7 linked regions of the Homo sapiens genome follow. The protein of the gene in region 4 purifies or fractionates together with the protein of the main gene of each other region. This does not show direct contact. Each region holds a gene or a part of one and is shown on either strand. Other genes may lie near its edges. The genes, in order: PIP4P2, RICTOR, INTS6, PROZ, MLF1, ATP23 and SDF2.

Region 1 (4,504 bases), on a different chromosome or scaffold from region 4:
TTTATAGCTTCAAGTAATAAACTGGTAAAGCATACACTGGTTTAGATGAAATATATTTCTTTCATAGTTAGGCTTTATATATTACATTTTGATCTCTCAAAATCTGCAATTAAATATTAATTTTATCTTTGATGTTTTATTTTTTTCTCTTTAGAAAAGACTAAAAAAAGTCAGCCAGTGATTATTGTGTCTTGAAGGACCACAAAACATGAATACTTGACTTCATATGTTTTATAGAAAAATCATAAAATAAAACCTTAAGTTACAAAAGCAATATATTTCATTAGTTTTAATGGAATCCTTTCCTTTTTAAACACAAACAAACTTTGACAATCTGTACTTTGGTTAATTGCTGTGTTTGCATTTTCTTCCCTTATCCAGCCAATCAAAAACCCCCCAACAGGCAAGAAATATGTTAGATGCCCTTGTAATTGTCTTCTCATTTGTAAGGACACATCTCGGCGAATAGGATGCCCAAGACCCAACTGGTAAGAGATAAAGATTAATTCATTGATTCATTCATTTGTTCATTCAACAAGTATTTACTAAAGGTTCTTCAGTGCCAGGCTTTGTTCTAGAAAGAGTTTTTGTTTTCAAAGTCATTCCAGAATCTAGATTATTTTTTTGTTAAAGGAATGATAAGCTTAGTTTGAACTTAGTCATAGATATTTGTAGGATATAATATTCTTAAATGAGCAATGAATGTTTTCTTTGTGTTATGTAAGTACTTAATGCACTGTAATAAATCAATGACACATTGAACGTATTTAAAAATAATGAGGTCAGGCCAGTGGTTCATGCCTGTATTCCTAGCAATTTGGGAGGCTGAGGTGGGAGGATTGCCTGAAGCTGGTAGTTTGAGACCAAACTGAGCAACATAGTGAGACCCCATCTCTACAAAAAATTAGCCAGGTGTGACAGCATGCACCTATATTCCCAGTTACTTGGGAGACTGAGGCAGGAGTATCATTTGGGCCTAGGGATTAAAGCCTTCAATGAGCTATGACTGTGCCTCTGCACTCCAGCCTGGGCAACAGAGTGAGACCCCATCTGTTAGTCTCTCTCTTTTTTTTTTTTTTTGAGACAGAGTCTCAACGGGAAGAGTCTCAAAAGAGTTGGCTCACTGTGACCTCTACCTTCTGCCCTGAAAGCCTTCCCACTATAGCCTCCTCCTGAGTAGCTGGGACTACAAGCACACACCACCACTCCCAGGTAATATATTTTTTTTTTTTTTTTTTTTTTTTTTTTTGTAGAGACAGGGTTTCACCATATTGCCCGGGCTGTCTTGAACTCCTGGGTTCAAGTGATCCCAAAGTGCTGGGATTACAGGCATGAGCCACCATGCCTGGCCCATCTCTTAAAAAAAAAAAAGTAATCACTTAGTTTACTTTTGATATAATTAATCTTCACCTGCAAGTGTTTTAGTTATTTTTGTGTATCTCACTGTATATTATACTAATCTCTGCTGAATGTATATGTGCAATAAATTCTGGAATTATTCGCTCATGCCCAGTACCATTATGGATGTCCCCAGATACAAGTATATAAAGGCCTTACTTGTGTTTTTTTTCTGTGATCTCTCTAGCTTTTTGACCATTACATGAATCATGTACAGCCCTATCCAATGATAGACTAGAGAATAGAAATGAAAGCAGGATCCTGTTTGCTTTCTTTTCATCTCTGATTAAATACGCATCAAGGAATATCACACTGCTCAGAGAAATTTGGTTGTAACCCAGCCCTTCGGTGCCTTCATGGCACAGAGATTTTTGTTGGTATAGAATATTTTTAACTTAGTCTTCTACCAAACTCAAGTTGGCTTCCTAGATAAGGAAGGGTAACAACTGTTTTCTGATTTGAACTTACAAAAACTTGGAAATGACAGTTAAATGGTTGCCATTGATTAGGACCAATGCTATAATATATTGTTTCTATCCCAAGTACAGACTCATATTTTGCTTTTGAAAAACTGACTGTTGCTACTCTTTGTAGTTTTGCCTCCAGCTTGACATTTAATTCACTTAATTTATGAAACAAGTATAGCACATTTCATATTTTTGGCCATATGTTGCAGGTTTTGCTCTCAGTCCATTTGTGGGATAGTGAAGTTGTTTCCTTTCTCTTTTCACAGTAGACGGATAATTAACCTTGGCCCAGTAATGCTTATTTCTGAAGAACAACCAGCTCAGCCTGCATTGCCAATCCAACCAGAAGGTACAAGGGTCGTGTGTGGGCACTGTGGAAACACATTCCTGGTAAGTCACTGGACATTTGTCATTAATCTGTAAATATAGGTCATGATCTTACAGATTAGAGCACTGCTCATAGTCTTATAGTTTTGTCCAAATGCAAATTAATCAAAATATTAAAATAGAGACTTATTTAGGCAGACAATCAGAAGTGCAACTAGGATATAGAGCATCTTCTGTGAACTAGATAAAAGGTACGTCCTCTGATAAGTCCAGTTGCAAAAAGGATCCTCTCTATGTAGGCCAATGAGAAATCGTGCCCAGGCTTAGTTCCATGAGTATCTTGGCTTGGGGAGCAGCTGAGTCTTAGCCCTGCTCTCACCTGCTCAGCAGAGGTCAAAGTGCACAATCTCATGCAGTAGATTTGCTTCATGGCTTCTAGATTGAGGAAAAATTTGAATAATAATTTATCAAAAATTTTCTGACTTTTATAAATTATTCTTGGAGCAAAGGGAATTAACACTGTTACCCATAATTAGATAAAACCATTAGATAAAGAATAAGAAAGTATAAGTAATTTGATATGAGCAAAAGTTATAAAAGTTTTTGTTTTACTACTTCTAACTTAAACTTAGTTTGATTTTTTTTAAAGTTAAATTCATAATTAACTTACCCTGTCAGGAAGGATAAGGACAGGTTTTCTTTTATTGTTCAGCCCATATAGGAGACAAACATTTTCTTTAGAACTTGAATATGAAAAATATTTATCAGAGTATACACATGGGAGTCTAAACAAAACCTGCTGTCACTAAGACATGAATGAGCTTAAGAAAATATAAGTGGTTTGCTTTTTTTTATTTGTAATTTTACTTTTATTAAAGAACTTTATGTATATAGTTCTAAATGTCAAATGGGACTGCAATCTTCTCATCTAGCTGACCCCTAGTTACTGTTCCCAAAATGCTTTCAACTCTTTCAGCTACTTTATTGATAGTCACTTCTATGTGTTTATTTTTTATAATTTTTAAATTTTTATTTATTTATTCATTTATTTTTTGAGATGAAGTCTCACTCCGTCGCCCAGGCTGGAGTACAGTGGCGTGATCTCAGCTCACTGCAACCCCTGCCTCCCGGGTTCAAGCAATTCTCCTGCCACAGCCTCCCAAGTAGCTGGGATTATAGGTGCACACCACCACACCTGGCTAATTTTTGTATTTTTAGTACAGATGGGGTTACATAATGTTGGCCAGACTTCTATGTGTTTAAATTGCTTATCCTTTTTCTATTTGATTAAGCAATTTTAGACATTACCCACTAAATAGTAAACTGCAAAATGAGAACTTAGCACTTATACTGCCCTCCCACTCATATTCCTTTCCTTGCTTTCATACTCCCAGTCAAATTGCAACATTTTGTTTAATTAATACTTAGTGTTTACAATTTTTATGATTAGGTAAATTTTGTTCACAGCTGAACCAAGCAATGTGGTACATTTTTCTTGTGCATGCATTTTAACATTTTCTTGGACTTACAAATAATTGCCCCCTCCTTTGGATTTAATTTTCTATGTGTAAATCATTCATTCTTCTCATATTCTTGTGTAGAACTATAAAATACCTATTACTATAATTAATTGCATCAAGGAATCTCTTATTTAGGCTTCCTGCTACATAGTTGTCATCCTTCCCTTCACCATCATCATGAAAATTCCTTTTACCTCTTTCCTGTGTTGGATCCCATGCCATCCTCAGAGTTCTTAGTTTATTCCTTCATTTTGGTGGAGCACATCTACTCTTTGCTTTCTGAGAAAAGATGCAGGGAAATATTATATTTGAGCTCTTTTTCTCTTAAGTGGTTTTTAATCTGATCTTACATTCACTTTATAATTTGTCTAGATGTGCAATTCTAGGTTGCCAGTTGTCACCTTTCAGAAATTTAAAGTCTTTGTTCCATTGTTGATGAGAAGATCAACAGCTATTGTGATACCTGATCCTTTTGATATGACATATTTTTTCTTCTTTTTCTTTTTCCTCTTTCATTTTCTTCAGTGTTCTGAAATTTCATGAGTCTATGTCTTCGTGAGGGTCTTTTTGAACTCATCATTTGGATATTCAGTGGGCCCTGTTATTGTCCATTCCATTTTTTTGGTTTTTAATTTTGTTTTTTCATATTATTTAGTGGGAAACTTCATTATATCTCCTCATCTTAATTTAAAATTTTAATTTCAGATGATCTAACTTAATTTTTAATTTCTAGGAGCCTTTGTTTGTCTCCGATTTTTTAATAGCATTCCTTTTTCATGACATCTTTGTAAA
Region 2 (4,504 bases), on a different chromosome or scaffold from region 4:
TAATTGAAGGACGCAGATTCTTGAAAATCCAGGTAATTAAGGTTAAAAAAACGTTTTCTGTATTTCTTACTGACATCTTTAACAGGATATGTTTAAAGCATTAGAATATCCTCAATTTTATATTTTATATAAATGTCATCATTCCAGGTACATTGCTCAGTTTACGCAATCTGGCTGGAAGCCTCTAAAAGAGGAATACGAAGAATATACTTATATTTAGGTTCTCTTTCAACCCTATTACTTTGGGTATATGAATGTTATACGTATTAACTAGTTTTACACAATTATTTTCAATTTACTTTTATGTCTGTAATTTTATAACTACATTTGTTGTATGGATATAATTTTTAAGGAGCCATTCAACTTTAACCTGGCCACTGTAACAAAAAAACACAAATAACAGTATCTGTAGATGACCCAAAAAGCATTAACAGTCAACTTCAATTATTCATACAGATTAACAAATATTTTAACCTGTTTATGTTCTTCCACTAACAGTATTTGCTTAGGAAACAAAAATCTGTGCTAATAATTCAAATAAAATGTAAAAGAAAATATACATCAATCTATTGTGGGAGAGAAAAGAACATAAAATATTTTCTCACCAATATAAAGTATTTAGATTATATATTTAGCATTCTTCTACCATTATTCATCTTTTTAAGGCAGGTAATTGAGAATGGACTGTATTTAATAGCTTGGTGACAGAGGCACAGATACACAGGCAAGCAAATCATTCGCTCACCCCACTGTGCTTTTCGCAGTCTTATTCTTGGTAGCCTGAGACCTGGGAGCGGGAGGAGGCAGCAAGTCACTGCAGGTGGATCACTTAAAAGGAAATTGAGAGTTGACTGTAATTTAAATTTAAAGTGCTATGAAATACCACCACTCCTACATGTATTCATTATTGTTTGTGGGACTACTACTCACAGTGATTTAACAAGGCTACAAATGCTTTCTTTTTAACCTTTTCAATATTCCAGGTCTGTAGTGATATGTGAGAATTACAAAGGTAGGAGGCTAAAGTGCTGCAAGTATAAAGTAGTATGCATTTTAGAGGTGAGGAAATTGAAGCCAGAGAGGTTAAATAGCATGCCATATCTTCCTCAGATTAAAGCAGAACCTCGTTCTCTGGACTTCAACTTCAATGCAACAGTCTAGCAGCCCCTTCAATTCAAAACTCTTCTCCTGGCTTATGTATCAGGCCATTCTTGCATTGTTACAAAGAAACACCTAAGACTGGGTAATTTATAAGAAAAGAGGTTTAATTGGCTATCATTTCTGCAGCCTATACAGGAAGCAGGGCACCAGCACTTGCTTCTGGGATGGCTTCAGGAAGCTTTTACTCATAGCAAAGACGAAGCGTGTGCAGGCATCTCACATGGCAGAGCGGGAGCAAGAGGGAGCTGGGGGGAAGGAGCCACAGGCTTTTAAATAACCAGATGTTGTGAAAACCTACTATCACGAAGACAGCACCAAGCCATGAGGGATCCACTCCCATGACCCAAACACCTCCCACCATGCCCCATCTCCAGCATTGGAGATTACAATTCAACATGAGATTCGGGTGGGGACAAATATCCAAACTGTATCATTCTGCCCACGGCCCCTCCCAAATCTCATGTCCTTCTCACACTGCAAAATAAACTCATGCCTTCCCAACAGTCTCCCAAAGTCTTAACTCATTCCAGCATTAACTCTGAAGTCCAAAGTCTCATCTGAAACAAGGCAAGTCCCTTCCACTTATGAGGCTGTAAAGTCACAAATAAGTTATTTACTCCCAAGATACAATGAGGATATAGGCATTGGATAAACATTGCCATTTCAAAAAGGAGAAATCAACCAAAAGAAAGGGGCTACAGGCCCCATGCAAGTTCAAAACCCAGCAGGGCAGTCATTAAATCTTAAAGCTCCAAAATAATCTCCTTTGACTCTATGTTCCACATTCAAGGCACACTGCTGCAAAGGGTGGGCTCCCAAGGCTTTGGGCAACTCTGCCCTGTGGCTTTGCAGGGTTTAGCCCCCAGGAATGCTCTCACAGGTTTTAGTTGAATGCCTGTGGCTTCTCCAGGTATAGGATGCAAACTGCCAGTGGATCTACCATTCTGTGGTCTGGAGGATGGTAGGCCCCTTCTCACAGCTCCACTAGGCAGTGCCCCACTGGGGACTCTGGGGGGCTCCAACCCCACATTTCCCCTTGGCCCCACCCTAATAGAGATCCTCAATGAGGGCTCCACCCCTGCAGCAGGCTTCTGCCTAGACACCCAGGCTTTCTCATACATCCTCTGAAATCTAGGCAGAGGCTCCCAAGCCTCAGTTCTTGCACTCTGGGCACCTGCAGGCTTAATAATACATGTAAGCCATCAAGTCTTATGGCTTGCACCCTTTGAAGCAGCAGCCCGAACTGTACCTGGGCCCCTTTGAACAAGGCTGGAAGCCTGAGTGGCTGGGATGCAGGGAGCAGTGTCTTGAGGCTGTGCAAGGCAGCAAGGCCCGGCTAGCCCAGGCCCACAAAACCATTCTTTCTTCCTAGGCCTCTGGGCCTATGATGAGAGGGGCTGCTGTGAAGGTTTCTAAAATGCCTTGAAGGCCTTTTCTCCAACTTCACGGATATCAGCACTTTGGCATGTGTTTAATTATGCAAATATCTCTAGCACGTGGTTGCTCTATAGCCTGCTTGAATTCCTCCCCTGAAAAAGCTTTTTCTTTCTTTGCCACATGGCTAGGCTGCAAATTTCCCAAACCTTTATGCAGTGCTTCCTGTTTAAAAACAAATTCCAACTTTAAGTCATTTCTTTGCTCCTACATCTTAGCATGGGCTGTTAGCAGCATCCAGGACACATCTTGAACACTTTGCTGCTTAGACATTTCTTCCGCCAGATACCAGAGGTCATCACTCTCAAGTTCAAACTTCCACAGGTCCCTACAGAATGAACAGAATGCAACCAAGTGCTTTGCTAAAGCATAATGAGGGTGACCTTTGCTCCAGTTCCTACTAAGTTCTTCATTTCCACCTGAGACCTCATCATCATGGACTTCATTGTCCGTATCACTACCAGCATTTTGGTCACAACCATTCAACCAGTCTCTAAGAAGTTCCAAACTTTCCCTCATTTTCCTGTCTTCTGAGTCCTCCAAACTCTTCCAACCTCTGCCTGTTACCCAGTTTCAAAGCTGCTTCCATATTTTCAGGTATCTTTAGAGCAATGCTCCACGCCCACTTACCAATTTTCTGTAATAGGCTGTTCTTGCACTGCTATAAAGAAGCATCTGAGCCTGGGTAATTTAAAAGAGGTTTAATTGGCTATTGGTTCTGTAGGCTGTACAGGAAGCATGGTGCCAGCATCTGCTTCTCGGGAGGCCTCAGGGTGTTTCTGCTCAAGATGGAAGGTGAAGCAGGAGTAGGCATCTCACATGGCAAAGTAGGAGTGAGAAAGAGTAAGAGGGTAGGTGCACACTTTTAAACAACCAGATCTTGCCAGAACTCACTATTGCAAAAACAACACCAAGCCATCAGGGATCCATTCCCATGGCCCAAACACCTCCCACCAAGCCCCACCTCCAGCATTGGGGATTACAATTCAACATGAGATTTGGGTGGGGACAAATATCCAAACTGTTTTAGCTTAAGAGATCACAATTTTCTCTCTTCTCTTCTATTGACTCCTTTCTTCTTATTGATTCCTACCCTATGATATACACCCTCATCATCTTATCTATTTTCATACATTCAAATCTTCAGCTCTTTTTCCATTTATATCCCTTTTCTCAACATCTTACACACAGAACAATCAGACTAGAAATTCAGGGCAACTAAAACCTCCATTCCAGTATTTGCTGCCACCTTTTACACATTTATATAATCACGTGAAATTCAAGGTGCAAAGCTGAACTCATTATCATCCTTCCCAAAATGACTTCTCCATTTTATGGCACCATCAATTTCATTGTCCCTTAGGACAGTAATCTTAAAGTACTCTTTTCCTTCTAATCTCCTTAATACTGTACTATTCTTTTTCCCATGTCTCTCACTCCCTTCTTCCAGTCAATTAATGCCTCAGTGATTATCTGATGGATGCTGGGGGAAGCGGATGTTAAAAATGGGTAAAACAGGCCTCCTGCCCTCAAGAAGCTAAAGATCTAGTGAAGGGGGAAGAAACTGGACAAAGAACTAAAGTAAGACAATGGTAACTGCAATTTAGAAAATAATAAATAAAGACGTAAAAAAGCAGAGAAGGAAGCAATAAATTCCCACTGGGATAAGGAAAGATCTCCAGAAATGGCATGTGACCTCAACCTTAAAGAATTAGGACTTCTATAGATAAACTGTGCTGGAAATGCAATTCAAGGCAAAGGAAATACCTACGCAAGGTCAAGCGAATATTAAACTACATGCCATGTTCAAGGAATAGCAAACATTCTTCTTTGACTGAAAGATTCTCAAGTAGGGGCATACAGTCTCCACGGAGAAAGAGGTGGAATGGGGGTTGGTGCTTTAGACTGG
Region 3 (4,504 bases), about 62 Mb from region 4:
ATAGCCAAAAACTTGTAACAGTCCAAGTGCCCATCAGCTGGTGAATAGATAAAGAAGATGTGGTGTGTCCATATAATAGACTACTACTCTGGAATAAAAAGGAACAAACTACTGATACATGAATAATGTCAATGAATCTCAAAAACATCATGCTAATTGAAAGAAGCCAAGTACAAAAGATTAGACGTTGCAAAATTCCATTTATAAAATGGAGCATAGAAAGAAAGCAAGTCACGTGGTTGCCTGGGGATAGGAATAGTGATTGACTGCAAGTGGGTACAACAAACTTGGGGATGGTGGAAATGGATTATGATGATGGTTTCACAACTATAAATTTACTAACATTCATCAAACTATATACTTAAAATAGGTGATTTTATGGTATATAAATTACACATCAAAGCTGTTTTTTAAAAAACTTCAGTTTTTAAAATTTGGAGATTGATTTTTACTTAAATGAGTTTACTTCTTTTATCCAGAATATATAATAAAATCTTTAGAGTTAGATGGTGAATTGAGATTGTTTGGTTGAGCTCACTACCAAATTTTCATCTTTTGGCCCTGAACCGGTACATTAAGATTATATCATATGTCTTTATTTTATTTTTTTTAAGCTAACCAGTTTATATATCTTATTTCCAAACCTATGCTGCAGGCTAGAGATTTTAGTCTCTTGTAATTCTATGTTTGACAATAAATTTTGTCCTCGAATGTTGTTTAATAGGATTTGAAGCCACAGACATTTAGAAATGCTTATGACATACCAAGACGAAATCTTTTGGATCACTTAACAAGAATGAGATCTAATCTTTTGAAGAGCACTCGCAGATTTCTGAAAGGACAGGACGAAGGTTAGAACATAGTTTCAATACTGGTATTTTTAATTTTTTTTCTTTATAGTCTGAAAAAGCATAGCATGGTGATGTAAATTTCAAAGAATTATTACAGTACTATAACATTCTTATTGTAAGTTCAAACAAATGAAGTAAAAGGTGAATCATCCCTGATTCTGTACCTTTCTTCCTACCATCACTGTTGCCCCAAATTCTCTTCCCTAGAGGTAACAACCTTTCTTAACAGTTTAGTTTCCTTTTATAGCTTTTCTCATGCATTCATGCGCGCACGCGCGCGCACACACACACACACACACACACACACACACACCCACTTATCAAACTGTATACTTAAAATAAGTGATTTTTCTTATCTCAATCATTTTCTTGAGATAATACCAGTATCTGATGGTTTAACTCTGGATGGCCAGTTTCATGACATTTTCTGATAATTCCTTCTTCACCTTTATCCATGGCACCTACTATAAATCAAGTCAGATGAGACTTTAAACGTTTGCCACCTCTGATTTAAGAGTTCTAACAATAATTTTATATAAAAGAGTTAGCTATGCGACTTTTTTTTTTTTTTACCATACTGTACTTCCATTTTCTACAAATTCTACTATAATTAAATTCTGTTTATTTGGAATAGCGCAGAAGAGAAGAGATACATCTTTCACGGTAAGATCACACATACTTTTTTTTTTTTTTTTTGAGTCAGAGCCTTGCTCTGTCGCCCAGGCTGGAGTGCAGTGGTGTGATCTCGGCTCACTGCAACCTCCGCATCCTGGGTTCAAGCGATTCTCCTCCTTAGCCTCCCTAGTAGCTGGGATTACAGGCACGTGCCACCATGCCCTGCTAATTTTTGTATTTTTAATAGAGATGGGATTTTGCCATGTTGGCCAGGCTGGTCTCATTCCTTACCTCAAGTGATCCGGATGTCTGCCTCAGCCTCCCGAAGTGCTGGGATTACAGGCATGAGCCACTGCGCCTGGCCACACATACTTTCTGTATGTGTGGAATTAATGGCAATGTATGTATGTGTGAAATTAATGGCAATTTTTGTTTTGTTTAGATGATGAGATCAGTATTTTAAATTTTATTTTAAAATATTTTGTCGCAGTGGTTATAATTGCACCAAACAAATTTAGAATATGTTGGTAAAGAAGACTGTCTAGAATAACACTAGGTAGCATTCATATATAAGGAAACATTATTTGAGAACTAATTGGAGGTTAACTTTTTTTGCTGTTGTATTCTTTTTGAAAGATCAAGTGCACAGTGTTCCTATAGCACAAATGGGGAACTACCAGGAATACCTCAAGCAAGTACCTTCTCCACTAAGAGAACTTGATCCTGATCAGCCACGAAGGTTGCATACATTTGGCAACCCCTTTAAGCTGGATAAGAAGGTAATTTTGAAATGTTCTATTATGTAATTTGTTTATGGTAGGCACTGTCAGTTTTATAGTTCTTAATTTAACTGAAGTAAGCTGAAGCTATTTTCCTGGTAGAGTATCTAATAAATATGAACAGAATATAGTTACCTTCATTGGAATTGACACTGGTTGTGCCATTTAAACATTGTTTGTAAATTCAAGAAAGTTGTATTCTTTTTTGCTAAAGGGTATGATGATAGATGAAGCAGATGAATTTGTGGCTGGACCTCAAAATAAACATAAACGACCCGGAGAACCAAATATGCAAGGGATCCCTAAAAGACGTCGGTGTATGTCTCCACTACTAAGAGGCAGACAGCAGAATCCTGTTGTAAACAATCATATTGGGGGAAAAGGACCACCTGCACCTACAACTCAAGCACAGCCAGATCTTATTAAACCTCTTCCTCTTCATAAAAGTAAGAATTGTTTTTTTCTTAAACATTATTTGCTGCCTTTTGGTTCCTTTTCAAGGAAGATATTTTTGTTATAGATTATAGAAGGAAATTGATTAGTAGTACAATGAGTGAATGAATGTATAGAAAATTTGTTTAAATGAGCATGTAATCATTTTTGTATGTCTTTTTAATGAACATTTGAACATTTCTTATTTATGATGCTTTATTAGCTATTATGTTCTAACATACATTTGCAAATCTTTCAAAATAATACTTTCGAAAGGAGCATTATCACTATCCACAGAAAGATGGTTTTCAATTTCAGTTGAAGTCAACTAATTATTAAATATGTATGCTATTTTGGATAATGCTGTGCTTTGAGGTATACCACTGAAGACAGGAGTGATCTCTGCCCTCATTTATAATCAGCAAGGAAGGTCAGTCATTGAACAGATATTGGAAGTATGTTGAATGTTACGAAAAAGATGTCAAGTATATTCTGGAAGCATTTGGCAAGAGGATTTAAGTCAATGAAGTCAAGGCACTTAACTGAAGAAGTTAATGCTTAAGCCAAAAGCTGTGCCGTTTGCTTATGCTGGAGCAATAGTATGTGCAGAGGCATAAAGAGAAAGACATTAAGGGAATTTAAAAAATTCCAGTATAGCAAGGGTGTTGGGAATGAGGTAAGGTGAGAACTGAAAGATAGAAGCCAGATTATGGAAGGTCTTGGAAGCTATTTTCAACTTTATTCTAAGGACAGTGAGAATCCACTGAAAGGCTTAAAATGATGGTGACCTAATCTGATTAGCATTTTATGAAGACCAGGTTGACTGTAATGTGTGTGGACTATTATCAGAGAGGAGCAAGAATGAATGTAGGGAAACCCTAATGAATTAATGGACTTATCAATTATATATAGTGGTCATACTTACAGCATGTTAACTGAAGGGAAACAAAATATTATATGACTCCTGATGGAAGTATCCAATACTGCCTTTGAAGTTGTCTTACCCAAAAAAAAAAAAACCAAACACCAAAATTGAACATCAATGTAATCAAACCAATTTATAGGAAATACAGGGGACAGAGAAACATGTGGGATACCGTTAGTAAAATCCAGATTGTAGAAAACTCTACAGGACAAAGAATCTGTTGGGTTTTTTTCCTGGAAAAAAAATATTTTTTCCAGAAAAATAAAAGGGGTACGGAAGGATTTTACAGATTCAAATGTAGTTTAAGAGATATATAAGCCAGTTGCAATGTATAGGCCTTAACTGTACTCAGAATCAAACAAAATCAAACTTTTCCACAAACAGAAAACATGTTGGAGAGTATGGACACTGACTGTATATTTGATGTTATTAAATAATTGTGCATGCACAGGAATCAGTTGGGAAACCCGGGGAACAGATGCTGCTGACCTGACAGTGGGGTTTCAAGAAGAATATGTATTTGAGAAATACCTGGACATACCACTGAAGGACTTGGTTACTGGTCAGATGTTGGGACCAGAGCAGGGGAGGAGTCAGACGTATGTCTTGAGAGACACTGGGTGGGTGGAAGAAGAAATGATAAATGAGTTTAGTTTAGAAGTGCATATTAGGTCATCAAGTGGAGATCCTAAGTTAGAAGATGAATATTGAGTTTGGGCTCAGGAGAAGAGGATTGGGCTAGAGGGGTAGTATGAGAGGCAGGTTACTGCCTATTGCACTGAATAAAATCTCACCAAGGCAAAAAGAAGAAAAAACGCTCAGAACAGAACCTTGAAAGTGCCAAAGTTAAGAGGAGAAAGCAGAAAAGGAGATTGAGAAGGAAGAATTTTAGAGCTAGGAGA
Region 4 (5,243 bases):
CATGAGTCCTTACAGCAATCATGCCCCATTCCTCCCCTCCTGACCTGGGTGCTGGTTTTGGCATAGGTCTTACATCTACAGATGTTATAAATGCCACTCTATACTTCCATTATTTTTGTTTAAACAGTATCCTGTAAAGAAGTTTAAAGAATAAGGAAAAAAACCTTACATATATAGTGGAATGCGGATAAATATTTAATGGGATGTCATAACCTTTTCCAGTGTTCCTTGCTGCTTTGTGTAAATCCAGGCCTCCCTCTGGTATCGTTTTCCTCCTGCCTAAAGGGCCCCTTTGATATCTGCTGTGCTGTGAGGCGTCTGGGGAAGAAGCCTTCTTGCGTTTGTCTGGAGGAGTCTTTGTTCATCTTCATCTATGAAAGGCATTGCGTCTGGCGCAGAGCCCCAGGCTGGCAGCAGTCCTCTCCTCTCTGCACTTGGGCCTGCCCCACTGCCTTCCTGTCTGCCTTGTGCCACAAGACGGCTCCCATCACCCTGCTGCTGTTCCTCACATGTCCTTACCTGTGGCACTTTTAAGATTTTAAATGCTTTTTAATTTTAACTTTCTAAGATTTCCTCTATCATGGATTTTGAATTTAATTATACTGTGTATTGTTTTCATGTTTCTTGCACATAGGGTTTGTTGAGATTCTTGTATTTGTGGGCTAATATCGCTTGTCAAATTTGAAAAATATTTGGTCATAATTTTCTTTTTTTTGAGACCGGGTCTCGCCCTATTGCCTGGGCTGGAGTGTAGTGGTGTGATCATGGCTCACTGCAGCCTCAACCTCCTGGGTTCAGGTGATCCTCCCACCTCAGCGTCTTGAGTAGCTGGGACCATAGGTGTGCACGACCACACACAGCTAATTTTTAAATTTCATGTAGAGATGGGGTCTTGCTATGTTGCTCAGGCTGGTCTCAAACTCCTGGGCTCAAGCAATCCTTCCACCTCAGCCTCCCAAAGTGCTGGGATTATAGGCGTGAGCCACCATGCCTGGCCCATTATTTTCAGATTTTTTTTCTCTCCTCCTTCTCCCTGCTCTGTTTTGGGACTCTAATTACATGTATCTTAAGCTGTTTGAAATCCCATAGCTCAGAGATGGTCTGTTCATTTTTCAAAAATCTCCGTTCTCTCCGTGTTTTACTTTTGATAGTTTCTGTTGTGATGCCTTCAAGGTCATCAATCTGTTCTTCTGCAATGTCTAATCTGCCATTCATCCTGGCCAGTGGATGTTTAACCTCATATATTGTAGCTGTCATCCAAAAATTTAATTTAGGTTTTTAAAAATACGTATTTTTGTCTCTACTTAACTTTTTGAACATTTGGACTACAGTTACAATCACTGTTTAATTGTCCTTGTCTACTAATATCTGTCAGTGCTGACTCAGTTTTGGGATATTTTTCTTCTCATTATGGGTCACATTTTCCTGTTTGTATGCCGTAATGGATTTCCAGACATGTGAATTTTATCCTGTTAGGTGCTGAATATTTTGTGCTCTATACATACACTTGGATATTGTCCTAGGACACAGTTAGGTTGGAAATACTTTCATCCTTTGGCACATTGCTCTTAAGATTTGTCAGTAGGACCAGGGCAGCGCTCAAGTCTAGAGCTAGTTATTCTGACTACTGAAGTGAAACCCTTCTATGCATCCTGCCCCGTGCCCCACTGAGTCAGGGATGTTTTAACTCAGCTGGTGGAAGCAATTGCTATTCCCAGCTTGTGTGAGTGTCTAGCACAGGTCCCTCTCACACTCTTGGGTGGTTCTTACCCGGCCATAATTAGTCTCCATGTACACGTGATCACCACTGCTCTGCTGAAAACTGCTAGGCATGTGGCCATCCTCCAGCATTCTCTACCAAGCTCTCTCCTCTGCCGGACTCTGTTCTGCAGGACTCTGTTCTGCAAACTCCAGCCACTGTGGCCTCCCTGGGCTCTCAGCTTTCTCTCTTCAATTTAGGGAGTCAGCAGGGCTCCAACTGAGATGCCCCGTCCTGCTCTGCACCATGGAAATTCTGGACAGTAGCTGAGACCGTTGTTTCTTGGGGATTACGATTCCTGAAAACCATCATTCCATAGATTTTGTCAATTTTTTGCTTCAGGTGGGAGGGTAAATCTGATCACTGTTACTTCACCTGGGCCGAAAGGGGAAGTGCCGGCCCCATTTAATCCCTAAGCAAACAAAAGCTTAGACTGTCAACAATTCGTTAACAATCCTGTACCATTTGAGTGCTGGGGCAAGAATCAAATACGGCTGTCTGCCTTTGGCGGGGGGTGGGGGTGGGGGTGGGGGGGTGGTCCATATCCCTATCCAGTAGACTTTACTGCCCCTAATCCTGCAAATTGTCACCAGCTATTTATTGTCTGTTTTGATTTTTAAAGGTAAAGTTAACAAATTCCGAAGGAAAAGACTTCTGTGGTGGTGTTATAATACGGGAAAATTTTGTACTGACAACAGCAAAATGTTCACTGTTACACAGGAATATTACTGTAAAAACATGTAAGTATTTTATCATGAGTTTTTATAAAACCACATTGGAAATACACTATCCTATGTAAGAATGAAATGACAAATTTAAAACTGGACTGTTTCTAATGCAACATAGAACTGAATTTACTGTCAATAAAACTGAGATACTTATCAACTCAGGAAGCATATGTAAAATACCAGCAGAAGCCTGGGCCCAGCGACAGGCAAGTGCTAACTCACACTCGGCAAGGGAGGAAATCACAGCCTACATAAGGATGACTTCATTTCCCACTGAAATTGAGCAGTTGTGGCATAAGAGATGGATAATTGGCTAAAAATCGGAAGAATGGGGCTCGAATCCCCCAGCAGTTGAGACCTCAGGCTGAGGCAGTGGCCTTCTCATCGGCTTATCTGTGCCTATTTCTTTCTTTTTTTTTTTTGAGACAGAGTCTCACTCAATCCCTCAGGCTGGAGTGCAGTGGCATGATCCAGGCTCACTGCAACCTCTGCCTCCTGGGTTCAAGCGATTCTCATGCCTCAGCCTCCCGAGTAGCTGGGACTACAGGCATGCACCACCATATCCCACTAATTTTTTGTATTTTTAGTAGAAATGGGGTTTTGCTATGTTGGAAAAGCTGGTCTTTACTCCTGGCCTTAAGTGATCGACCTGCCTCGGCCTCCCGAAGCGCTGGGATTACAGATGTGAGCCACTGTGCCTGGCCCTTAAATATTTTTCAATCAACAAAATAACGTGAAAACCACTTCTCAACAGCCAATGTTTGACTGGCCTGGAGACGTTCCACATCACTGCTTCCTGCTTTTTAATCATTTCACCACACCCCACTGCACTCCAAAACAGAAGAACTAACCTTGACTGTTTTTAAAGGCTGTGGCACTTGGTTGCAATCGTGCAATCTGTGAGTGGCCTTTCTGTCCGCAGAAAGGCACAGTGTCCACACCACGGGGCGGTGAGCCTGCGGGTCCTCCAGGGCCGGTCTCTCCCTCCTCACGTGGCTCCCTGAGAAGCTCGTTTGAGCATTATGTCCCCTTGAAAATCAGACTGTAAAGAACTGACGATTGTTCATGATTTCAGATTTTAACAGAACGAGCCAAGACCCGCTGATGATCAAGATAACGCACGTCCATGTGCACATGCGGTATGACGCGGACGCGGGGGAGAATGACCTGTCACTGCTGGAGCTGGAGTGGCCCATCCAGTGCCCAGGTGCGGGGCTCCCCGTGTGCACCCCTGAGAAAGACTTCGCTGAGCACCTCCTCATCCCACGCACCAGGGGCCTCCTCAGCGGCTGGGCACGCAATGGCACTGACCTGGGCAACTCGCTGACCACGCGGCCTGTCACACTTGTGGAGGGGGAGGAGTGCGGGCAGGTCCTGAATGTGACTGTCACCACCAGGACCTACTGTGAGAGAAGCAGCGTGGCGGCCATGCACTGGATGGATGGAAGTGTGGTCACCAGAGAACACAGAGGCTCCTGGTTTCTCACGGGGGTCCTGGGCTCGCAGCCAGTAGGAGGGCAGGCTCACATGGTCCTTGTCACCAAGGTCTCCAGGTACTCACTCTGGTTTAAACAGATCATGAACTAACTGAAACTCAGCTAGCCAGAATGAACAACACAACCGGAAGCGGGATTCCAAGCTGGCACTGCCACTGTGGAGGGCGCTGAAACTTCATCACACACTGAGAGGCCGTCACAGCCCCAGACCACCCGCTTGGCCCACGCAGCAGCAGAGCCGCCGTTTGCTGGGTTGTTTACCGAGCACTGTGACCTTTCTTTCCCTGGAACTCTTTATCTCAATAGAGACCTTAAAAGAAAACATGAGATACGTTAAATAATAAAATAAGATAATCTGTCAGTCATAAAGCAGCCTGGTTTCCAGAAATTCTTTCCTTCTCCAAGTCCAGTGTTCCCTGTGCTCAGGGAATAGCCACCCCAGCCTGCACACTGGTGAGTGTGTTCTGGTGCAGAAGCGACAACAATCTCCGGTTACAGCAGAAAGTGACCTCCTCTGTTGGTTTACCAATTGCCACTGTGACTGAGGACCATGGCTCAGTGCAGAAGCAGCCACTAGAAGCAGGTTGGCAATGGAGGAGAATGACCCTGTGGGTATCCCAGAGAGGCAGCATTAGAGGAAAGGGCCAGAGAGCACAAGAGAGGCTGAGGAGGCACGCCGGCGTCTCACGGGGTTGTGCACCCGCCCTTCTCTGGGAGGGTTCCCACGGAAGGTTCCGGGGCCCGAAGTCAGGGCTGAGCACTGAGACCCAGCTCTCTGCTCGTCCCACCAGGTGGCTCTTGGACAACTGTTCCACCTCTTCATGCCTCAGGGTCGCCCAGGGTAGAATCCCAGCACCTCACCAATGGGCTGATGGGCAGCTAGGGCAACGCCCAGCACTGTTGTGGCTGGAGTGTGTGTCCCTTCAAAACTCCAAAATTGGAACTTACCCCAAGATGATGATATGGGGAGGTGGGGCCCTTGGGAGGTGACTAGGCCATGAGGGCTCTGCCAGCCCCTTCCATCTCTTCTCCCATACGAGGACACTGCAGTGAGGTGCTACCCTGGAGACAGAGAGCCCTCAGCAGACACCAAATCTGCCGGCACCCAGATCTTGAACTTCCCAGCCCCCAGATCTGTGAGAAATGAGTTTCTGTTATCACCCAGTCCATGGTATTTTGTAGAACAGACCAGGACAGCACGTGCTGAATCACAGTAAACACCTGCTGTCATGAAGGCTGCAGCTGCAATGCAAGTACCAA
Region 5 (3,386 bases), on a different chromosome or scaffold from region 4:
TTTGAGATGGACTCCTGCTCTGTTGCCCAGGCTGGAGTGCAGAGATGCGACCTCGGCTCACTGCAACCTCCGCCTCCCAGGTTCCAGCAATTCTCCTGCCTCAGCCTCCTGAGTAGCTGGGATTATAGGTGCCCGCCACCACACCCGCTGAATTTTTGTATATTTAGTAGAGACAGGGTTTTGCCATGTTGGTCAGGCTGGTCTTGAAGTGACCTCAAGCAATCCACTTGCCGCAGCCTCCCAAAGTGCTGGGATTACAGGCATGAGCCACTGCGCCCGGCATGTATATAGTTTTAAATAGTTTCAATTTACAGACTAACAGTATTAAACACCCATCATAAGAAGTTGTTGCAAACAAATATTATTCTGGGGTATAGATATCGATAGTTATGTTTTTATGGTGCAAAGATAGAGTTGACTTTTAAGAAAGAAACAGAACTTTTCTCGGTACTACCATCTCAAATTCTGCCTCACCACAATCTCTAACTGCAATCTGATGTACAGGAATTATACTGTTAAACACAATTATTTATTAAAGGGTGTTTTTAGATTTGACTACAATGATTCAAGTTATCATCAGTGTAATGATTTAGGCAAAAGGAAAATCAAGTATGTACTTTATTAAGACTTTGCTCTATCAGGTTAATTTATATCAAGATGTTATTTAAAATGTGTGCCTTATGACAATTTCCCAATGTGTTATGGTATGTTAGGAGTATACTAAAGTATGCCTAAAAGGAAATTTTTAACTAATACATGCTCAATTTCAACAATGAATTAACACATTTGCATTTTATTTTAATGACTAAAGGCATAAAACACAAACTAGTAAAATTAACAAAAATATTATATAAAAAATTAGAGAAGTATGAACATAGTCATATAATTTTACTTACAAAATTGAAAAGAAAAATACTTAGGATTATAGAGTGATAGCAATTTTTGGGGGCTTTTTTCCTTGACAGAAATATTAAACAACAAATGTGAGTTAAGATTTTATATTCTTATAAACTTCAAACCTAACTTTTATAAGAACAGACTGATGCTTAAATTCTAGAATTAAAAAGCTAAAGCTGATTTTTAATGGTATAATTAAAACAGAAACAACTGAATTATTAAGACGTTGCTCAAAAACACCCATCAGCTGTCTAACAGATTTTGAGACAATGTATCATTCTGGTTTGGAGAATACCAAATGCATTTTTCTAAATGTCACAAAAAAGCTGAGCAGAGTTTCTCCAAGGACTCTCCAGCTTCAGAATGTTAACCTTGGAGACAGATGAAGCTGTTTGTGGGAAAGGAGAGTAGAAATATGCCACATTAAGAAGTTAAAGAGAATGGTCAATATAATATCTGGTGAATATTAAGAATGTAATATAGAAAAGATACATTCTATAAATAAATTATAACCAAAACAATCATGTACATTAGCAATTTAAAATATTTTTCTCTGAAAATGAACTATTTGATTATCCTTGCCCTTTATCAAAATAGTAACTATTTTCTCATAAAAGAGTACTAGTGTAGTTTTGCTTTATTATTTTTAAAGTTTTAAGCTAGTTGGCTTTACAACACATTATAAAATTAGAGATAAATTATTTAAACCTTTATTAATATCACCCTAGTACAGTGTTAGTAAAAACTGAGACTTTTTTAACATTATAATTTCTTATAACTAATTATAAGTGATAGAACTGCTCTGCAATCAATCTTGATAAATATAAAAGAATATTTAGCCAACACAAAAACAACTGGGGAAGCGAAATAAGCATATAAGCTTTAAAAAATTAGTATGTTTTAAAGAGTTTTACATTAAATAGACTCAATTTACTCACATTGTTGAAAATCAAAATTTTATTCCTAAAAGAGGGACAATATAAAGCTAGGACCTTCATGAACATTCAGATATCAGAAGAAAGTTGCCAAGGACAGAACTGATTTAACAGCAAGAGATTGGTCTTATGCTTATTACCCAGCACCATTACTAACTGTTAAAACAATCAAAACTAAACAAATCAAATGCATGGCTATTTATTTTTTGTTGCTTTTCACAGATGAGCCTTTGATGTGGAGTTTGTCCCCCAAAACATTTGATCTCCTTCCATGTTCAATGGCTGGACTTTGTTGAGGTTTCTCCCTGAGAAATATACATGTGAATATTAATATCATTTAAAAAATGGCCAATGGTTTATAAATCAATACAAACATGTTAAAAACCACTGTAATATAAGAAAAGTTTTATCTTAAAAATTCCTTAATGGCTTTGAAAAACAAGGCTGGCCAGGTGCGGTGGCTCATGCCTGTAATCCCGGCACTTTGGGAGGCTGAGGCAGGCAGATCACAAGTTAAGAGATCGAGACCATCCTGGCCAACATGATGAAACCCCATCTCTACTAAAAATACAAAGATTAGCTGGGCGTGGTGATGCGCGCCTGTAGTCCCAGCTACTCAGGAGGCTGAAGCAGGAGGATTGCCTGAACCTGGGAGGTGGAGGTTGCAGTGAGTTGAGATCGCGCCACTGCACTCCAGCCTGGCGACAGAGCCAGACTCTGTACCCCCTGCCCTAAAACAAAAAATAAAAAACAAAAAAAACCAGAAAATAAGGCAGACTATTTCAGTGAATTTAAGACAGCAACAGCTGTTTTCCTGTTAGATTTAACTGTTTATAGTTTAAACACTGTTTAATGTTAACAGTATGGTAGTCACTAACCACATTTATATTTGAATTAAAATAAAATAATTCAGTTCTTCAGTTGTACCAGCAATGCTTCAAATGTGAATCAACAGCCACATGTGGCTAGTGATTACTACACTGGACAGAATAGATATATAGCATTTTTGTCATTACCGAAGTCATTTCAGAAAATGCCATTGGACAGTGCCGGTTAAGAGAAAATGCCACTGTTAGGGCCAGAAATTTATAGGTCATCCATAAAGAGCATGCCTTCTCTAAGTGCGACCTGGATTTCCTATTCAAACTTGGCACTGCCAGGTTTTTAATCAATACATTTTTCAAATGAGACAAATATCTATAATGAATATGGGAGCAAGTTTTCAAGCAATTCAATAGAAAATACTAGGGCTCTAAATTCCTAAACAAGTATTTTAGAAGAAAAGATCCTAGCATATGAAATTCTGCATAAGGCTTCTGATTTACTTGATACTCACTTGTCCACTGCTAGTTCTGTGAAGGCTTCCACCTTCTGTAGCAATTTTCCACTTTCTTATAGCTTAGAACAGATTTCTATTTAAGGTCTGGTGAGGCCTTTGAGTGTAACTTCATAGGAATTAGATATTATTATCCATTTATTCCTCTGAGAACCACATTAAACTGTAGCTCCAGAGTATGTACAAAATGTATTTAAAAACTCTATAATATTTATTTA
Region 6 (4,504 bases), on a different chromosome or scaffold from region 4:
CCTGGTATTCACTCAATAATACGTATTGTTAACAATAATTATTCTACTGTGAACACTCTTGCAAGGGGCAGGTTGGTAAAGCAGTAACCTATACCTGACTTTCTCATCTCACATTTCTTTTTCTCACCTATTTTTGCCTTCAACATTTTTTTTAAACCTTAGTTTCTTTTTCACTTTTTTTGGGTTACATCATATAATTGGCTGTGCATTTATATTCTCAGACAAGATGCCTATGTGAAAAGTTAATATCAGAGGCATTTGGGCTCCTTGTACTTTCCTGTAGTAGTCACGGGCCCATAGAGTCTTAGATGTGGAAGGGCCCTCAGGAATCGTCTAGGCCTCCCCGTCCCCTTACAGGGAAACCTCTGTGCTATTGCTGGCCAGATACTCTACAGACCTCTCCTGGAATACAGTTACCTGTTCCTTGAGGCTCTTTCAATCTACTGTCTATTGTTTCACCAGCTTTAATTGTTGGAGAAAAATCCTTTCTCATACTGAGCTGAAATCTGCCACATGTAACTTCCATACTTTGGTCCTTGTTCTGCCCTTTGAAGAAATATTAACTGAATCTAGTCCCACATGGCACCCCTTCAATACTTGAAAGTAGTGTGGTCCTAGTTAAGTCTTCTGTCTCCTTTCCAACCCCCCAAATCCTTTCTTGCTTCTTACTGGAAATAGTCTGTAGTACCCTAGTCACCATCCCCTGTGGAAGAGCTTCAGTGGCAGGTCCAATTTAGAAGGTGGTAGTACTCAGCATGGGACATGGTATTGCCGGTATGATCTGATCAGGACAGAACAGTGTGGCTACTGGCTTCCTCAAATCTAGGTACTGTGCTGTTGTTCACTTCTAAGAATGTGGCCCTAGATTCCCTCAGTCTTTTGGTATATACCGTAATACAACGTGTTTGATCATTTAACTAAAAATGAACTTTAAAAGCATAGTTGATATTGTCTAAGATGCTTAGTAGTACCATCTTGGTATTTGTATTAGTGTTTTATTTCAGTACAAACTTGCTTTGATGTTGATTTAAGCTTGGCCTCTCATGTCAATTTTTACCAATTTTAAGATAACATTACTTTTTTTTTGAGACAGAGTCACTCTATCGTCCAGGCTGGAGTGCAGTGGTGTGATCTCAGCTCACTGTAATGTCTGTCTCCTGGGTTCAAGTGATTCTCATGCCTCAGCTTCCCAAGTAGCTGGGACTACAGGCGTGTGCCACCATGCCCAGCTAATTTTTGTATTTTTAGTAGAGACGGGGTTTGCCATGTTGGTCAGGCTGGGCTTGAACTCCTGGCCTCAAATGATCCACCCGCCTCAACCTCCTAAAGTGCTGGGATTACAGGCATGAGCCACTGCATCTGGCCTGTGAGTTACTTTTTGATAATATCTTACACTGCTATTTGGGTAGTTTAATTGGTGCTACTTTTCCAATTACTTAATTAAATCAATATCTTTTTTAGATCCATATGTCAAACTTCTGCTTGATGCTATGAAACACTCAGGTTGGTAAGTAACTCTTTTTGAAGTGCTGCTCTGAGGTCTGGCTGCTGAAAACAAAAACCAAGTTCTCTTCTTAAGAGAACTGCTTAAGATTTCTCTGAGGTCACAAAGTCTTTTCCATAGGGTAAATAGAGGTAATTGGCTGCATTGTCTCCGGGCTGGCCTTGTTCTCTTTGGACATTTTCTGCCCTAACTCATGTTTTTTTTTTTTTTTGGGGATAGAGTCTCGCTCTTGTTGTCCAGGTGGGAGTGCGTTGGTGCTGTCTCGGCTCAGTGCAACCTCCGTCTCCCAGGTTCAAGCAATTCTTCTCCCTCAGTCTCCCAAGTAGCTGGGTTTACAGGCGCACGCCACCATGCCCGGCTAATTTTTGTATTTTTAGTAGAAATGGGGTCTTAGCATGTTGACCAGACTGGTCTCGAACTCCTGTCCTCAAGTGATCCACCCACCTCGGCCTCCCAAAGTGCTGGGATTACAGGTGTGAGCCACTGCGCCAGCCCAGCTCATTTTCTAGTTCTTACCATTCACCTTGGGTGATTAATAAAGACAGTACTCAAAATTTTCTTGTAAGTAATTACCAAGCCTGGCCTTTCTGCTACACCAGCCTGAGCACTGTTTTTAATGGAAAAGAAATCTCAGCTTGTTATGTAGGAACCTTGCAGATGTTGTATAACTTTGAGGGGTTTAAAGGAAGTGACTTCTGACATCCACTTCTTAACATTCTGGCCCAAGGGCAGGAACTCCAGCATACTTGCAATATGGCCATAATCAGTTGAACAAATTTTTTTTTTTTTTTTTTTTTTTTGAGACGTAGTTTTGCTCTTTTTTTTTGCCCAGGCTGGAATGCAGTGGCACGATCTCGGCTCACCGCAACCTCCGCCTCCCGGGTTCAAGAGATTCTCCTGCCTCAGCCTCCTGAGTAGCTGGGATTATAGGCGCCCACCACCACCCGGCTAATTTTGTATTTTTAGTAGAGATGGGGGGTTCTCCATGTTGGTCAGGCTGGTCTTGAACTCCCGACCTCAGGTGATCCACCTGCCTCGGCCTCCCAAAGTGCTGGGATTACAGGCGTGAGCCACCGCGCCTGGGGGACAAATGTTTTATGGAATCATATCTATAGAATTTGAACTAGAATGGATTTTGTGTACAACCTCCTTATTTTACAGGTGAGATAACAGTCCTGAAGATGTTGTTTCTTTCCCAAGATTTCCTATGTGTTAGTAGTAGAGGGGATTTACTATATGGTGGAGGGTCTCCTGAGCCCTGGCCCAGGGCTGTTTGCCACATACACACTGTTTCTGGACATTGTCTCCTTTTCTTGCCTTTTAGTGCTGTTAACAAAGATAGACACTTTTCTTGCGAAGACTGTAATGGAAATGTCAGTGGAGGTTTTGATGCTTCAACATCTCAGGTAGGCATTATTGCCAAATTGTTTCCTTCCCTTTAATCCTCTCTCTTTATATTTTTTGAGCATCTTCCACATGCTCGGCATTCTGTTTGGTAGACTTTATGTAGGACTAAAAAAGTGAATTAGTTATCCTTACTCTAAGGAGTTTACTCTTAAAATCTCTTAAGGAGTTTACAGCCTTACAGGAAAGATAAGACATGAACACAGATAATTATAAAATGAGGCAAGCTAAACCATTTTAGGTGGGCTTGGTTACCACAATGGAACAGTGATGTGATCGATTGAAAGATGCCAACAGATTCGACTAGAGGATATAAAGCCTCCTTAGGGGCAGAGCAGGGACAGAGCAGGGGCAGCATGAGCAAAAGTGCATGCTACGAAACTGCATGGCATGTGTAGGGAATGGCATATTGTCTAGTTTATCTGGAGGGCAGGAACATGTGGGGAATGAGGGAAAATAGGATTGGAAGGAAATGTAAGCCCTATGGTGGGAGGTTTTGAATGCTAAATTAAAGGGTTTTTACCTTTACGTGGTGAGAATTGATACTGCCTGTGAAAATTTTTTATTAGGGGAGTTTTCTAATCTGTACAATTTGGGCAACGATTGTATCTATTTTATGGAATGATTATGAGAATTAAATGAGATATCTCTTATAGAGTTGCTTATCTTAGTGCCTGGCCCATAGTAAGCATTCAATAAATTTTATTATTAGTTTTAAGTCATCAGAGAGTTTCGACAGAGTCTTGGAGGTGGTAGATAATGTCATGTGATCAGGGTAAATGATGGTGTTATAAGTAACTGTTTCCCACTTGAATGTATAATTCATACTTAACTACACTTAACTGTTTCCTGCTGGATAATTTTGTATGTATTTAGGTTATTTATAGCATTTTTACAGTAATCATGTGAAGTGGCAATATAGAACAAGGATGAGAAGTCTAGATTTTGGAGTCAGACTTGAGTTCAAATCCTAGTTTCCTTGCTTATTATCTGTGGGGCTTGGGCAAGTTATTTTTCTTCTTCTCAGTTTCCTCATTTGTAAACTGGTAATCACAATACCTATAGCTCTCAAAATGGCTCTGGATAAGTTCACTCCCTTCTCGGTCCCCCCAGGGTTAAACAGAGTGCACATCTTGAACTTTCATCCTAATTCTCAGCAGTGTTGAACACAGTTGGGCACCCTCTCCTTTTATTTTATTATTATTTTTTAAATTATTATTATTTTTGAGACAGAGTCTTACTCTGTCACCCAGGCTGGAATGCAGTGGTGCAATATGGGCTCACTGCAACCTCTGCCTCCTGGGTTCAAGTGATTCTCCTGCCTCAGCCTCCTGAGTAGCTGGGATTGCAGGCATGTGCCACCATGCCCAGCTAATTTTTGTATTTTTAGTAGAGTCAGGGTTTCACCATATTGGCCAGGCTGGTCTTGAACCCCTGACCTCAGGTGATCCACCCATCTTGGCCTCCCAAACTGCTAGGATTACAGGCGTGAGCCACTGTGCCTGGCCTATTTTTTTAAATGAAAATTTTTATTATGAAGTATCTCATTCATACAGAAGAGTAAAACATCTATATGTACACTTTCAGTAATAATAA
Region 7 (4,504 bases), on a different chromosome or scaffold from region 4:
CCAAGATCATGCCACTGCACTGCAGCCTGGGTGACAGAGTGAGACTGCGTCTCAAAAACAACAAAAACCCACACAAAAATAGAGCCATTTCCCCAGGTCTGCACAAAAGAGAACATCTACACCTAGAAAAGAAACATTTAAGAACCAAGAGATCAAACAAGCACCCACTGAGTAATGCAGAGCAGCAACAATCCATCGAAAGCCACCTCACCTGGTTTCCAGAAAGAGGTGAAGTGAAGTGGTGACTATGGAGGTTTCGGCCAGTGTTGACATGTGTCAGCCGGATGGGCTGGCCACACTTGATGGGGGTTCCCCTCTCACACACTGTGGCACTCTTCCCCCGTATCCTCCAGTAACTGTTGCTGTCATCCACAGAGGTTACACCTGTCACTGACTGCTGCCCACTACCTGCAGTTAAGAAAAGAAAGGCAACTCTCTTTCTCTGCCATGGACAACATGCTCAGAGACAGAAGCTTGAGTGCGCTCAAGATTCACCTTCACCTGTAACCCACCACCATGACCAAGGAAGACACGCTGCTGGAGGTGTAATGGATATTAATACTGCTCTACAAGAGACTGAAGACCGCCCTCAGCCATGATGGCCTAGCAGGTGGAACCTGCAAAGCTGCCAAAGCCTTAGACAAGGGCCAAGCCCATCTTTGCGTGCTTGCATCCAAATGTGAAGAGCCTATGTATGTCAAGCTAGGGGTGGCCCTTTGTGCCGAACACCAAATCAACCCAATTAAGGTTGATGACCTTAAGAAACCAGAGACATGGCTAAGCCTTTGTAAAACTGATAGACAAGGAAAACTTTGTAAAGTGGTTGGTTGCAGTTGTGTCACAGTGAAGGGCTACAGCAAAGAATTTCAGGCCAAGGATGTGACTGTGTACTTCAAATGCAAGAAATTAACAAATAAATTTGGTACCCATTCCTCAAAAAAAAAAACAGCAAGTGAGCTCAGCCTCACCCTTCTTGCCTATGGCCAATATTGTGCCGTGTCATTAAACAGGTAAGAAGGGGTGGGGAGAAAAATGCTATGCTTGGCAATATTTTTTCTTCTACAACATTAAAATATTTATAAAAAATACAAATCATACTGGGCGTGGTGGCTCACGCTTGTAATCCCAGCACTCTGGGAGTGAAACTTGACCTCCCAAAGTGCTGGGATTGATGGTGAGCCACTGTGCCCAGCCTTTTTCTTCTTTTAAATAAAAAAAAAATTTTTTAGGCTGGGTGTGGTGGCTCACACCTGTAATCCTAGCACTTTTTGGGAGGCTGAGGCAGTTGGATTGCTTGAGCCCAGGAATTCAAGACCAGCCTGGGCAACATGGCAAAAACCCATCTTTACTAAAAATACAAAAATTAGCTGGGTGTGGTGGTGGCAGCCTGTAATCCCAGCTATCTGGGAGGCTGAGGTGGGAGAATCGCTTGAACCCGGGAGGTGGAGGTTGCAATGAGCCAAGATCGCGCCACTGCCCTCCAGCCTGGATGACAGAGCCAGACTCCGTCTCAAAAAAAATAAATAAATAAACTGTGTCCACGTAATACTAGTTACTATATGATAAAGTATACTTAAGGGTATGTCATATCAGAAAATTCTAAGAATTTGCATCAAAGGATATCCAAGGCACAAATCTATGTGAGTTTTTTGAGGCACAGGCAGTGGTAACCTATACACACTAGCCTGGATAGCCCCTAATGTGTCTAATCACATAATTTTAACATGTTTGTAATATTATTCATGTTCATTAACTATTATGATAAAAATTTTTGTATTTCACAATTAAAATGAGACTATGTTGCCAACTTTAAGCAGCCATTACAGCTCCCAACTCCCATAAGTGGTCAATTATTATAAACGTATTATTTAAGCAAGGCACGGTGGCTCACGCCTGTAATCCCAGCACTTTGGGAGGCTGAGGCAGGCAGAACACAAAGTCATGAGTTCGAGACCAGCCTGGCCAATATGGTGAAACCCCGTCTCTACTAAAAATATAAAAATTAGCTGGGCGTGGTCGCATGTGCCTGTAATCCCAGCTACTTGGGAGGCTGAGGCAGAAGAATTGCTTGCATCCGGGAGGCGGAGGTTGCAGTGAGCCGAGATCACACCACCGCACTCCAGCCTAGGTGGCAGGGCAAGACTCTGTCTCAAAACAAAAACAAAAACAAAACAAAAAATGTATCCTTGGAGGTCTGGCACAGTGGCTCATGCCTGTAATCCAAGCGCTTTGGGAAGGTGAGGGGAGGATCCCTTGAGTCCAGGAGTTCGAGACTAGCCTCAGCAACATAGCAAAATGCAGTCTCTAAACGTACATATATATATATGTATTTTTTTTTTTTGATACAGGATCCCTCTTGTCACTCAGGCTGGAGTGCAGTGGCACGATCACAGCTCGCCACAGCCTTGACCTCCCAGGCTCGGGTGATCCTCCTACCTCAGCCTCCCAAGTAGCTGGGATTTCAGGCGCCTGCCACCACACCTGGCTAATTTTTCTATTTTTTGTAGAGATGGGTTTTTGCCATGTTGCCCAGGCTACTCTCGAATTCCTGGGCTCAAGCAATCCAACTGCCTCAGCCTCCCAAAGTGCTAGGATTACAGATGTGAGCCACCACACCCAGCCTAAAAAAAAATTTTTATATTTAAAAGAAAAAAAAGAAGCTGGGCACAGTGGCTCACCGTCAATCCCAGCACTTTGGGAGGTCAAGGTGGGCAGATCGCTTGAGCCCAGGAATTCAAGACCAAGCCTAAGCAACTGACAAAACTCCATCTCTACAAAAGATGCAAAAAATTAATCAGGTGTGGTGGGGTGCACTTGTAGTCCCAGCTACTCAGGACGCTGAGATGTGAGGATTGCTTGAGCCCAGGAGGTCAAGGCTGCAATGAGTCGTAATTGTGTCACTGCCAGTTACACGGGTAAATGTAGCCAACTATCAGCTCCTTTCATGACTTTATTATATCTTTTTTCAGAAAAGGCAAACCAAGTCTCCCTTCCTACTTCTGGTTACTGCCTTACAGCTCTCTGGGTCCTCACAGCCACGCTTCACTAAACCATGGTCTACATTTTGTCTCCTACATTTTCTGCTTTCTATTCAACCGTTCACTTCTTCCTCCAAATCCTTATACCTTGGGATTATCCAAAGTTCTATGCCTGGCCTTCATCTGTTTCTACCTGTAGTTTTTTTTTTTTTTTTTAGTATTTATTGTTCATTCTTGGGTGTTTCTCGGAGAGGGGGATGTGGCAGGGTCACAGGATAATAGTGGAGAGAAGGTCAGCAGATAAACATGTGAACAAAGGTCTCTGGTTTTCCTAGGCAGAGGTCCCTGCGGCCTTCCGCAGTGTTTGTGTCCCTGGGTACTTGAGATTAGGGAGTGGTGATGACTCTTAACGAGCATGCTGCCTTCAAGTATCTGTTTAACAAAGCACATCTTGCACCACCCTTAATCCATTTAACCCTGAGTTGACACAGCACACGTTTCAGAGAGCACGGGGTTGGGGGTAAGGTTATAGATTAACAGCATCCCAAAGCTGAAGAATTTTTCTTAGTACAGAACAAAATGGAGTCTCCTATGTCTACTTCTTTCTACACAGACACAGTAACAATCTGATCTCTCTTTCTTTTCCCCACATTTCCCCCTTTTCTTTTCGACAAAACCGCCATCGTCATCATGGCCCATTCTCGATGGTCGCTGTCTCTTCGGTGCTGTTGGGTACACCTGCAGAAAGGCTGTCACTTCACACTTGGAAGACTGCACAGCGGCCAGGCAGAGGCGCTCCTCACTTCCCAGACGGGGCGGCCGGGCAGAGGCACTCCTCACTTCCCAGACAGGGTGGCCGGGCAGAGGAGCTCCTCACTTAACAGACTGGGTGGCCGGGCAGAGGCGCTCCTCACATCCCAGACGATGGGAGGCCGGACAGAGGCGCTCCTCCCCTCCCAGACGGGGCGGCCGTGCAGAGGCGCTCCTCACTTCCTAGATGGGACAGCCAGGCAGAGGTGCTCCTCAACTCCCAGACGAAGGGCGGCCGGGCAGAGGCGCTCCTCACATCCCAGACAATGGGCGGCCGGGCAGAGGCGCTCCTCACTTCCCAGACAGGGTGGCGGCCGGGCAGAGGCGCTCCTCACATCCCAGACGGGGTGGCGGCCAGGCAGAGGCGCTCCCCACTTCCCAGACGGGGCGGCTGGGCAGAGGCGCTCCCCACTTCCCAGACGGGGCAGCCGGGCAGAGGCGCTCCCCACTTCCCAGACAGGGCGGCCGGGCAGAGGCGCTCCCCACTTCCCAGACGGGGCAGCCGGGCAGAGGCGCTCCCCACTTCCCAGATGGGGTGGCGGCCGGGCAGAGGCGCTCCTCACATCCCAGACAGGGCGGCCAGGTGCTCCCCACTTCCCAGATGGGGTGGCCGGGCAGAGGTGCTCCTCACCTCCCAGATAATGGGCAGCCCACTTCCCAGATGGGGTGGCAGCCGGGCAAAGGCACTCCTCACATCCCAGATGGCGCGGCCGGGC

Evidence for each region.
Region 1: the proteins of PROZ (region 4) and PIP4P2 purify together in Homo sapiens (co-immunoprecipitation; one large-scale study listed by IntAct). This does not show direct contact.
Region 2: the proteins of PROZ (region 4) and RICTOR purify together in Homo sapiens (co-immunoprecipitation; 3 studies listed by BioGRID and IntAct, with this or other methods). This does not show direct contact.
Region 3: the proteins of PROZ (region 4) and INTS6 purify together in Homo sapiens (co-immunoprecipitation; 3 studies listed by BioGRID and IntAct, with this or other methods). This does not show direct contact.
Region 5: the proteins of PROZ (region 4) and MLF1 purify together in Homo sapiens (affinity purification with mass spectrometry; 2 studies listed by BioGRID and IntAct, with this or other methods). This does not show direct contact.
Region 6: the proteins of PROZ (region 4) and ATP23 purify together in Homo sapiens (affinity purification with mass spectrometry; 2 studies listed by BioGRID and IntAct, with this or other methods). This does not show direct contact.
Region 7: the proteins of PROZ (region 4) and SDF2 purify together in Homo sapiens (co-immunoprecipitation; one large-scale study listed by IntAct). This does not show direct contact.

The regions. Positions count from the first base shown.
Region 1 is NC_000008.11:91,016,141-91,020,644, reverse strand, and holds part of PIP4P2 (type 2 phosphatidylinositol 4,5-bisphosphate 4-phosphatase), read left to right. Parts: intron 1-381; coding exon 382-488; intron 489-2,131; coding exon 2,132-2,255; intron 2,256-4,504. UniProt on the Homo sapiens protein: Catalyzes the hydrolysis of phosphatidylinositol-4,5-bisphosphate (PtdIns-4,5-P2) to phosphatidylinositol-4-phosphate (PtdIns-4-P).
Region 2 is NC_000005.10:39,063,854-39,068,357, forward strand, and holds part of RICTOR (rapamycin-insensitive companion of mTOR), read right to left. Parts: intron 1-4,504. UniProt on the Homo sapiens protein: Component of the mechanistic target of rapamycin complex 2 (mTORC2), which transduces signals from growth factors to pathways involved in proliferation, cytoskeletal organization, lipogenesis and anabolic output.
Region 3 is NC_000013.11:51,372,395-51,376,898, reverse strand, and holds part of INTS6 (integrator complex subunit 6), read left to right. Parts: intron 1-724; coding exon 725-851; intron 852-2,102; coding exon 2,103-2,245; intron 2,246-2,459; coding exon 2,460-2,691; intron 2,692-4,504. UniProt on the Homo sapiens protein: Component of the integrator complex, a multiprotein complex that terminates RNA polymerase II (Pol II) transcription in the promoter-proximal region of genes.
Region 4 is NC_000013.11:113,168,032-113,173,274, forward strand, and holds the end of PROZ (vitamin K-dependent protein Z isoform 2 precursor), read left to right. Parts: intron 1-1,770; exon of another isoform or gene 1,771-2,057; intron 2,058-2,381; coding exon 2,382-2,499; intron 2,500-3,338; exon of another isoform or gene 3,339-3,562; coding exon 3,563-4,074; 3' UTR 4,075-4,355; downstream 4,356-5,243. UniProt on the Homo sapiens protein: Appears to assist hemostasis by binding thrombin and promoting its association with phospholipid vesicles. Inhibits activity of the coagulation protease factor Xa in the presence of SERPINA10, calcium and phospholipids.
Region 5 is NC_000003.12:158,603,848-158,607,233, reverse strand, and holds the end of MLF1 (myeloid leukemia factor 1), read right to left. Parts: intron 2,138-3,386; coding exon 2,032-2,137; 3' UTR 1,286-2,031; coding exon of another isoform or gene 1,264-1,285; 3' UTR 778-1,263; downstream 1-777. UniProt on the Homo sapiens protein: Involved in lineage commitment of primary hemopoietic progenitors by restricting erythroid formation and enhancing myeloid formation.
Region 6 is NC_000012.12:57,944,167-57,948,670, forward strand, and holds part of ATP23 (mitochondrial inner membrane protease ATP23 homolog), read left to right. Parts: intron 1-1,461; coding exon 1,462-1,507; intron 1,508-2,559; exon of another isoform or gene 2,560-2,594; coding exon of another isoform or gene 2,595-2,665; intron 2,666-2,828; coding exon 2,829-2,910; intron 2,911-4,504.
Region 7 is NC_000017.11:28,655,076-28,659,579, forward strand, and holds part of SDF2 (stromal cell-derived factor 2 precursor), read right to left. Parts: intron 409-4,504; coding exon 212-408; intron 1-211.